Homo sapiens: one gene and its partner. The protein of the gene in region 2 purifies or fractionates together with the protein of the main gene of each other region. This does not show direct contact. Each region holds a gene or a part of one and is shown on either strand. Other genes may lie near its edges.

Region 1 (4,118 bases), on a different chromosome or scaffold from region 2:
CTTTGGGAGGCCGAAGCGTGAGGATCGCTTAAAGACAGGAGTTGAAAATCATACTGGTCAATATAGTGAGATTGCAGTGAGCCATTATCGCGCCACTGCATTCCTGCCTGGGTGACAGTGCGAGACCCCTTCTCAAAAAAAAAAAAAAAAAAAGAAAGAAAAAAATCATAAGCAAACAACAACAAAAAAACAAATATAAAGAATGGCGGTCTGCTTAATTCTCCGTGCCAGCCCTTGAAATCAGTGGGTATTATTATGTAGAGTTTGAGTTCTTTCCTCCCTTGAGTAACATGAGTGACATCAGTAACATTAGTCAAGCGCTGCTCTTTTTGAAAGACTGTATTTCATTATTTTTATTCTAAACCTTACTCTGTTTGATGAAGATTGGGGGAAGAGCCCTCCCAATTCCACCGCTCACACATAACAGCGGTTGCTAGCATTCTTTATTTGTGCTAGGTCATCTGCATATTGTTTAAACATTTTTCGAGGCTGGAAAGACTGCTCCCACTCAGGCAATTCTGACGTGGCGGCCCTTCTAATTTATATTCTCTAAATAATTCTTCATTTAGAGAAAACAGTCAGGGATTACAGTGAGGGAGGGTGACGTGCTGACGGGGACAGAGCTTGGCTTTTGATCATTCTCCCCTTAGCTCTGCCCAGGCAAGCGTCCCTAACTCAGGGTATCGGAACCGATCTCCCTTAGAGGATTATGTTTCAACCACCAGCCTCAGCGGTTTACTCAAATGTCCTTCCAGCCAAATGCAGAAGTCTCCCTGGGAGTAATTTTGGTGAAGTCAGCTTTTGCCTTTTTCATCACAGGCAGGCTTTAGTAGTTCCTCAAAACGTGCACCACAACTGCCCGGCTGCCAAACAGAAATGCTGATGCCTGGGCCCACTCTAGCCATTTGGCCTCGGCATCACGGTGCGGGAGCGTGGGGCGCAGACTCGCATTGTCACAGGAACCTCCCGGCCTTCCGAAGAGCCCCGCGCCGGGGCCTTTGTCTCGCACGTCGGCTGGGGCGGGAGCTAGGTTCTCGCAGCCTCCTCCCACCGCTCTGCGCCTTCTTTGTCCCTCCAGAAGCCGCCATCAAAGCTCAGCTCCTGATTAGGTTTCGGCCCCGCTGGCCGGCGCAGTCTCGGCGACTACCCCAGGCGGCCTGGCGCACGCGAGGATTCGCCGCGCCCCAGATGCAGGTGCCTCCCCTCCTTAGCCGCCGACCGACAGTGCACGCCGCGGCCGCCGGAAGTGACAGCGCCTGTCGTTGGGGAGCTCCCGCCCCTTCCGCCTCGGCGCCCCGCCCAGGCCTCGCCCCTAGGTGTTCCCGCCCCTCCCCCTCCCGTGTCGCTCGCTTTCTGTCAGCCTCTCTCCCTCTCCCTCTCCCCTCTCCTTCCTCTCGCTTCCTCTCTCGCACCTGAGCGTACGCACCTGCCCGGGCCCGGCTCCCTCCTCCTCTCCCCTCCCTCTTTCCCCGCCCGGCCGCGGGAGCCTCGTGGCTGCGTCACCGCCGCCCCCCCAGACAAGATGGACACCGCGGAGGAAGGTAAGTCGGCGACGCGCGGCGCCCGAGCCCTTGCGTCGGCGCCCGGGTTCGTACCCCGGCCAGGTCCGCGGCGCTCGAGGTGGGCTGCTGGATCGCGGCGGGGCGGACGCCTGGGCCGTTTGTCCACCCGCTGGGCCTCTGGGCCGGGGAGCGGAAGGTGACCCTCTGCGCGCCCCCCGCCGTTTCCCGCCCGCGCCGCCGAGGGGGGCGGGGACCCTGCCGGGCAGGGGCCGGGGCCGGGGTCGGGGCCTCGGGGCTACTGCAGGCCGGCGTGGCCTCCCTTGTCCCCGCCGTCGCGCGCTGGCCCAGAAAAGGGGGCCTCTGTCGCTGCCGTCCGGGGGCGTTTTCCGCACCCTTCCCCCACTGGGTTTTGTCTTTCTTTACGTCCTTCTGCCTATTGCTCGCCAGGCCCTACCCCCTCGCGACAGAACTTCTTTGTTGACTTTGAAACTTCGCGAAAAATACCCCGCCAGATGACGGCCGAGTGGAGTGAGCTGACCCCTGTTGAAAAGCCTGGTCCTCGGCTTGCCTGCCGCTCGAGAATCTGTTTACTAAACGGGGAGGCTCTTTTGTTGCGATCCATTTGGTTTTAAATCCTTGACACCTATAAGCAGGGTTCTGTTTGTTTTGTTTTGCGATTGCTTGTGTTTTGGATACGGTTACATTGAACAAACTGACCCTTGTAAAATGAATACTTAAGATATAAACGTCCACACCTTATGTCTCTTCAAACGCATTTTCTTACCCACTGAAGGTAGTAGATTATTTTTAACCAGCTGTGTTTTTAAATGAGTGGTGAGTTTATAGAGGAAATTACTAAATTTTGCTTTTTTTGATGTTCCGGTTATCGTGCAAATGCTTTTCTACTTTAGGTATATTTATGGGGGTATGAGCGTCTTTCAACCTTATGGGTTGCGATTTTGGCGATTTTAAACGAAAATGAATTATCAAACGCCGTCATGGAGTGCAATAATGAGTGAAAAAAGTTTGATATTATCTATGTAATGAGTTGATAACGACTTATTTTTTTTTAAAGAAGTCTTGCCTTTAATAAATACCTCAACTATAACATGTGGCACTTGATGTACATTCGCGTTCCATCTTCGTAAAAAGCCTGTGGAATAGGTAGGTATTATCTTTTATAGATGTGGAAATGTAGGCTTCGTTATTTTAATAGCTTGTCGAAGCTTTACACAGGTAGTAAGAGGCAGATTTGAACCTAGGCATTCTGATTGCAAGTAATTTCCCTTTCATTATGCCACAGTGTGTTTATTATATACACTGAGTGTAGCTAATCGCCACTGGAGACGCCTTTGGAAAAAATAGTAAAGCGAAACTGCTGAAGGTTGCGAACTATTTCTTTTTGACAGGTGGTCCTTGCGTGTAAATTTCCATCTACATAGGTTTCACATCCTTTTAGATTCAGGTTTTAATGAGTAAATCTAGTAAGGCATGTATTTATCACAGGATAGGTACGGACGTATTACATTCAATTCTCATTCTTTTGGCCTGGGCATTGCTACTTGCATACTTTTATGGTGTGACAGTAATCTGTGGTAATTCAGGAATTGCGCTCGAAGCACGTATGGAATCATGAAATATTTTCACTGTACTTCTAGTGCTTAAATATATTTTTTCTCTTGTAAAATTATAATCAGGATAAGGTATACATAACATTTATTTATTGAACACTGTTGCCTGTTAAAATAACATGTGCTGAAGACTCAACGTGTAGTATGTGCTTTACTAAACACTTTATATACATTTCATTTAATTCTCTCACATCGTTAGGTAGTCGGCATTTTCATTTTACAGATGAGGAAACTGATGGTTAGTATGATTAAGTAACTTGTCCAGGATAATACAGGTAGTAAATGGCAGAGGCAAGATTCAGACTCATGTCTGTCAGAGTCGCACTTAAATTAGATTATTTATTTATGAGTGTATACTACAAGTCCAATGTTGAAATTTATTTTTGTCACTCCCTCTATAGGATGAATCATTTATATAATTTGGTGGAAACTTTATTTTGCTTTATTTTGTTTTATGAAATTATTAGTCATGAAATGCAAGTGAATTTTAGTGCCGTATTCTCATGCCTGCTTTTGCAAAATTCCAGTTTGGAAGTCTTCTGACATTTTTACAATTAAATTTAAGTTGAAATAACACTTAAAGGAAAAGGGAGGGTTATAGAGGATTAAAAATGATATAGCAAAGATGCCAAAAAACTAATAAAAAATGTTCTATTTGTGAAATCAGTTATTATAGGTTATTTCTTTAAAAAATGCGACTTAGGTTTTTTAAATCTGCTTAGAAATTTTTTGGTAGGAGATATTCAAAGTATGGCCAAACATAAAACTAAATTAAAAAAAAATCAGTATCACCTACTTTTGAAAACACTTATACTGTTGTGGTTCTGTTTTTTATTTATTTTATTTTATTTTATTTTATTTTATTTTATTTTATTTTATTTTATTTTATTTTATTTTATTTTCCGAGATGGAGTCTTGCCCTGTTGCCCAGGCTGAAGTGCAGTGGCATGATCTCTGCTCACTGCAACCTCCACCTCCCAGGTTC
Region 2 (3,500 bases):
TCCAGGTAAGCAAGAGGAGGAAGCTAGAATGACCTAAGTTTTTGGTTTAAGGAAGATACAAGCAGTTGCATATGGAAATATCTACAGATATGTATACACACATGGGTTAGCATCCACACATATATTTACTTGCTCTGTCAGCTGAGACGGCCTAGAAGCAACACACCAACAGCCACCAGCACACCTAATTCCCAGATCTTGGTTTGTTGTTGTTGTTTAATATTCAAGATGGGATCTTGCTAGTTGCCCAGGCTGCTCTTGAATTCCTGGACTCAAGCGATCTTCCCATGTCGGCCAAAGTGCTGGGATTATAGGTGTGAGCCACCACAGATCTTGGTTTTTAATACCATTCTCTAATAAATAAAAGGAACCAGGACTGAGGCAAAAAAAATAAATATATATACAAGATGAGCTTGGAGCATCTTGTATTGCCAGAGAATAATGAAGTGTTCACAATACACACACACAATCATGGGGACAGGTGGGCTCATGAAAGGGATATAGGAACCAAGTAAAAGAGCTCCCAATGGCCAAAGCTTTTTCCAGGAAAATAAAATAGTATTGCTTTATAACCCGAAGCATCAAGTAAACATGCACGAGTCCAGACTGATATAAAGCAGTGGCTGAATAAACAGAAAATAGACAAATACCCAGCGCCACGAGTCCGAGGAATGCCTGTGGCTCCTCCTCCTCCAGCAGGGAGGACGCTGCTCCCCACCCCTCAAGTATGGCCGTTCACAGGGACAGTTTCTAACGAGTGGAGTACGGAAAGGAGGAAAATAACTTTACTGAGGAGAAACTTGGCAAACACCACCTCAGTCAGCCAGGTGTTCAAGGCCACATCCATAGCAATGAGTCCTGTGGACAGAACACAGCCTTGACAGGCTGTGGCGAGACAGGCCCTCTAACTGCATCACCCAAGTCTAGTCATAAGGAAAATATCAAACAAGTCCCAAGAGAAGAGCATCCTACAAAAAAATCCCTGACCCACAGCACTGCTCCCAAGTGCCAGTCATCCAAACAAGGAACGCCTGAGAAAGCACCACAGCCAAGAGGGGCTGACGAGATGTGCCCACTCATGTCCTGTGTGATCCTGGGTGGGATCCTGGGACAGAGAAAGGACATTAAGGAAAAGCTGAGGAAATCTGAATCAAGTGTGAATTTTATCGATAGGAGAAAGCGTGGGTGGAGTGGGGGGATGGTCGACAAAGCGGAATGATCCTTCCTCCCTGGAGGAAGAAAGGGGAAACCCGGGCATGAAGAGAAGTGAAAGCAGTTCACTCAGGAAGACGAGTGCTGAGTGTCTCAGCAGAGAGGAGGAGCGGGGCTGCGGCGCTGGGAGGGCCTATGGAGACCGCAAAATGGAAATGGGGTGGAGAGGCGGCGGCCAAGAGGGGCCTGAACTGTCACCCTGCAGGGCCCAGACAATGCTGACACCTTAAGTGTCTCATAGAGGATGGGAATGGCTGGTCCTTTTATCCAAAAGCCCAGCCCAGCACCATAAACTTACCCAGGGCTGGAGATTAGCCAGGATGATGGGCTAGAAAAGCAGAGTAACGAAGGCAAGACCAAGATGCAAGCGGGAGAGGCCAACCTCAGAGTCCAGGGGGCAGGAGGAGAGGCCTGGTAAGCCAAGTGACCGAAACTCAGGGCACTGAGGGCCCGAGGAGCCTGAGAAACAGACTCAGAGGAAGTGAGGGGCAGGACTGAGGCTGGGTCCAGGGGGGCGCTGTAAGATCCGGAGGCAGTGGTTCCTATGGGCCGTGCAAACGGGGCCACATCCCAGGTATGCCACCAGCCCGGATGAGTCAGGGAACCTGAGTCAAGGTGGGGAAGGCTACAGAGGGAGCTCACGTCCTCCCTCAACTCACAAAAGGAGCGCAGCACTCAGCTGACCCACTGCAGTGAGCTGATGGCGACTGCGCTCCTAAGTGCTCTTGCCATCAACTGGCAATCATGAAATATTCAGTTTGTCCTTTCAAATCCTACCATAGGAAATGATGCTCTAAGAAACCATGATTTTCTACTCAAATTACTGAATCCAAAGATCAGAATATTACTTTTAAGGAAAAAAAAAATCCACACCAGAATATTAACCCAACTCAAGCCAGATCTCAATGATATGCTGGCACGTAAGTCATACGGTGAATAGTGACATTGCCTGACCTTTCTAGAAGGGCATTTCATATTAAAATACTTAATCACTCTACAGTAGGATCAGAACACTGCAGATCAAAAACATGGCAAAGTGGGGGAACACACACAGCACACAATGAACCGTGGAAGTGGGAGAGGGAACACCAGTCTCAGGAGTGAGGGGCCTGGGGGACAACACTGACTTCCCTTCCCCCTAGCCACACCCGGTCTCTGACTGGATACTTCTCCTCCACCCATGTAAACGCCGGGAGCACCCGGGCTTAGTCCTCGGCCTTCCCTTCATCTACATGCTCTCCACAAAGGAGCTAATGGGGAACCTCAGTTTCACGAAGTTTAAACAAAAAAAGATATCTGGAAAACTCTCAGGCTGACGATGCATCCCTAAGGGCGTCTATCCAACTGGCCACTTAACAACTCCAGGGCAGGAGGGTCAAAGCAGAACCTCCCCCACTCAGTCACGACCCCACTCTTTCCCATCTCAATCAACGGCACACCACACCCAAAAAAAAAGGCCCCGCCCTTCATGTATCTCATTCCCCACCTCTCCACATCTAGCTGATCAGCAAGTCCTATGGGGTGCACCTCTAAACCTACCCCAAATCCGACCACTTCTCCCACCTCCTCACCCGCCCAGACCAAGGTCCCATGAGCTCTCACCTGGGGAGTGCTTAGATCACCTGCTGACCAGTCCTCTCTCTACTCTCATGCCTCTGCTCACCCAACAGTCCAGTCCCCCATGCAGCACCCAGAGTGGTCTTCCACAGACGTAAATCAGATCATGTCACTCCCCTCCCTAAGCTCATGCAATCACTGCCTTTTCAGTGCGAATAAAATCCCACCCCACCCCCCACTCCACCCCACCACCATGGCCTAGAAAGCCCCACTCCATCTGGAGCCTGCTGGCCTCCCTTCCTAGCAGCCTCTCCCTGGCTGCTTGTTCTGCCATCACCTCAATGGAATGTTACTCATAGTATCCCCAGCACTCCCGGGTTCACCACGCACTCCACAAACATTTCTTGAGTGAATAAGTAAGGGAAGGAGGGTGCTTGAGGGAGACAAGAAAAAGTAGAAAGGAAGTCCACAGGCAAACGACAGGGGCGTGTGATAAGATCTGCCAGGGGAGTGGGCCAGAGGCCCAAAGGAGCCTGGCAGAAAAGGAGTAGAAGAGAAATGCACAAGGGTTATAGAGAAAGAGGGAGACGGGGGTGAAGAGAAAAACCCCACCTGTAGGCAAGTCACAACTTCAGGTCCAGAAAACATGTGCGCGGGACCTCACTAGAGCACGCAGGCCAGATGAGGTGGCCTCCAAGGAATGCTTACTCGTACCCCAAAGGTTCCCCTTT

The links. Proteins that work in one complex are often made in the same cells at the same time.
Region 1: the proteins of ZDHHC7 (region 2) and MARCHF6 purify together in Homo sapiens (affinity purification with mass spectrometry; 2 studies listed by BioGRID and IntAct, with this or other methods). This does not show direct contact.

Annotation. Positions count from the first base shown.
Region 1 is NC_000005.10:10,352,377-10,356,494, forward strand, and holds the start of MARCHF6 (E3 ubiquitin-protein ligase MARCHF6), read left to right. Parts: upstream 1-1,318; 5' UTR 1,319-1,522; coding exon 1,523-1,541; exon of another isoform or gene 1,542-2,666; intron 2,667-4,118. UniProt on the Homo sapiens protein: Endoplasmic reticulum membrane-associated E3 ubiquitin ligase that plays a critical role in mitigating endoplasmic reticulum stress, the regulation of cholesterol and lipid homeostasis, and ferroptosis.
Region 2 is NC_000016.10:85,001,536-85,005,035, forward strand, and holds part of ZDHHC7 (palmitoyltransferase ZDHHC7), read right to left. Parts: intron 3,049-3,500; exon of another isoform or gene 2,815-3,048; intron 1,709-2,814; exon of another isoform or gene 130-1,708; intron 1-129.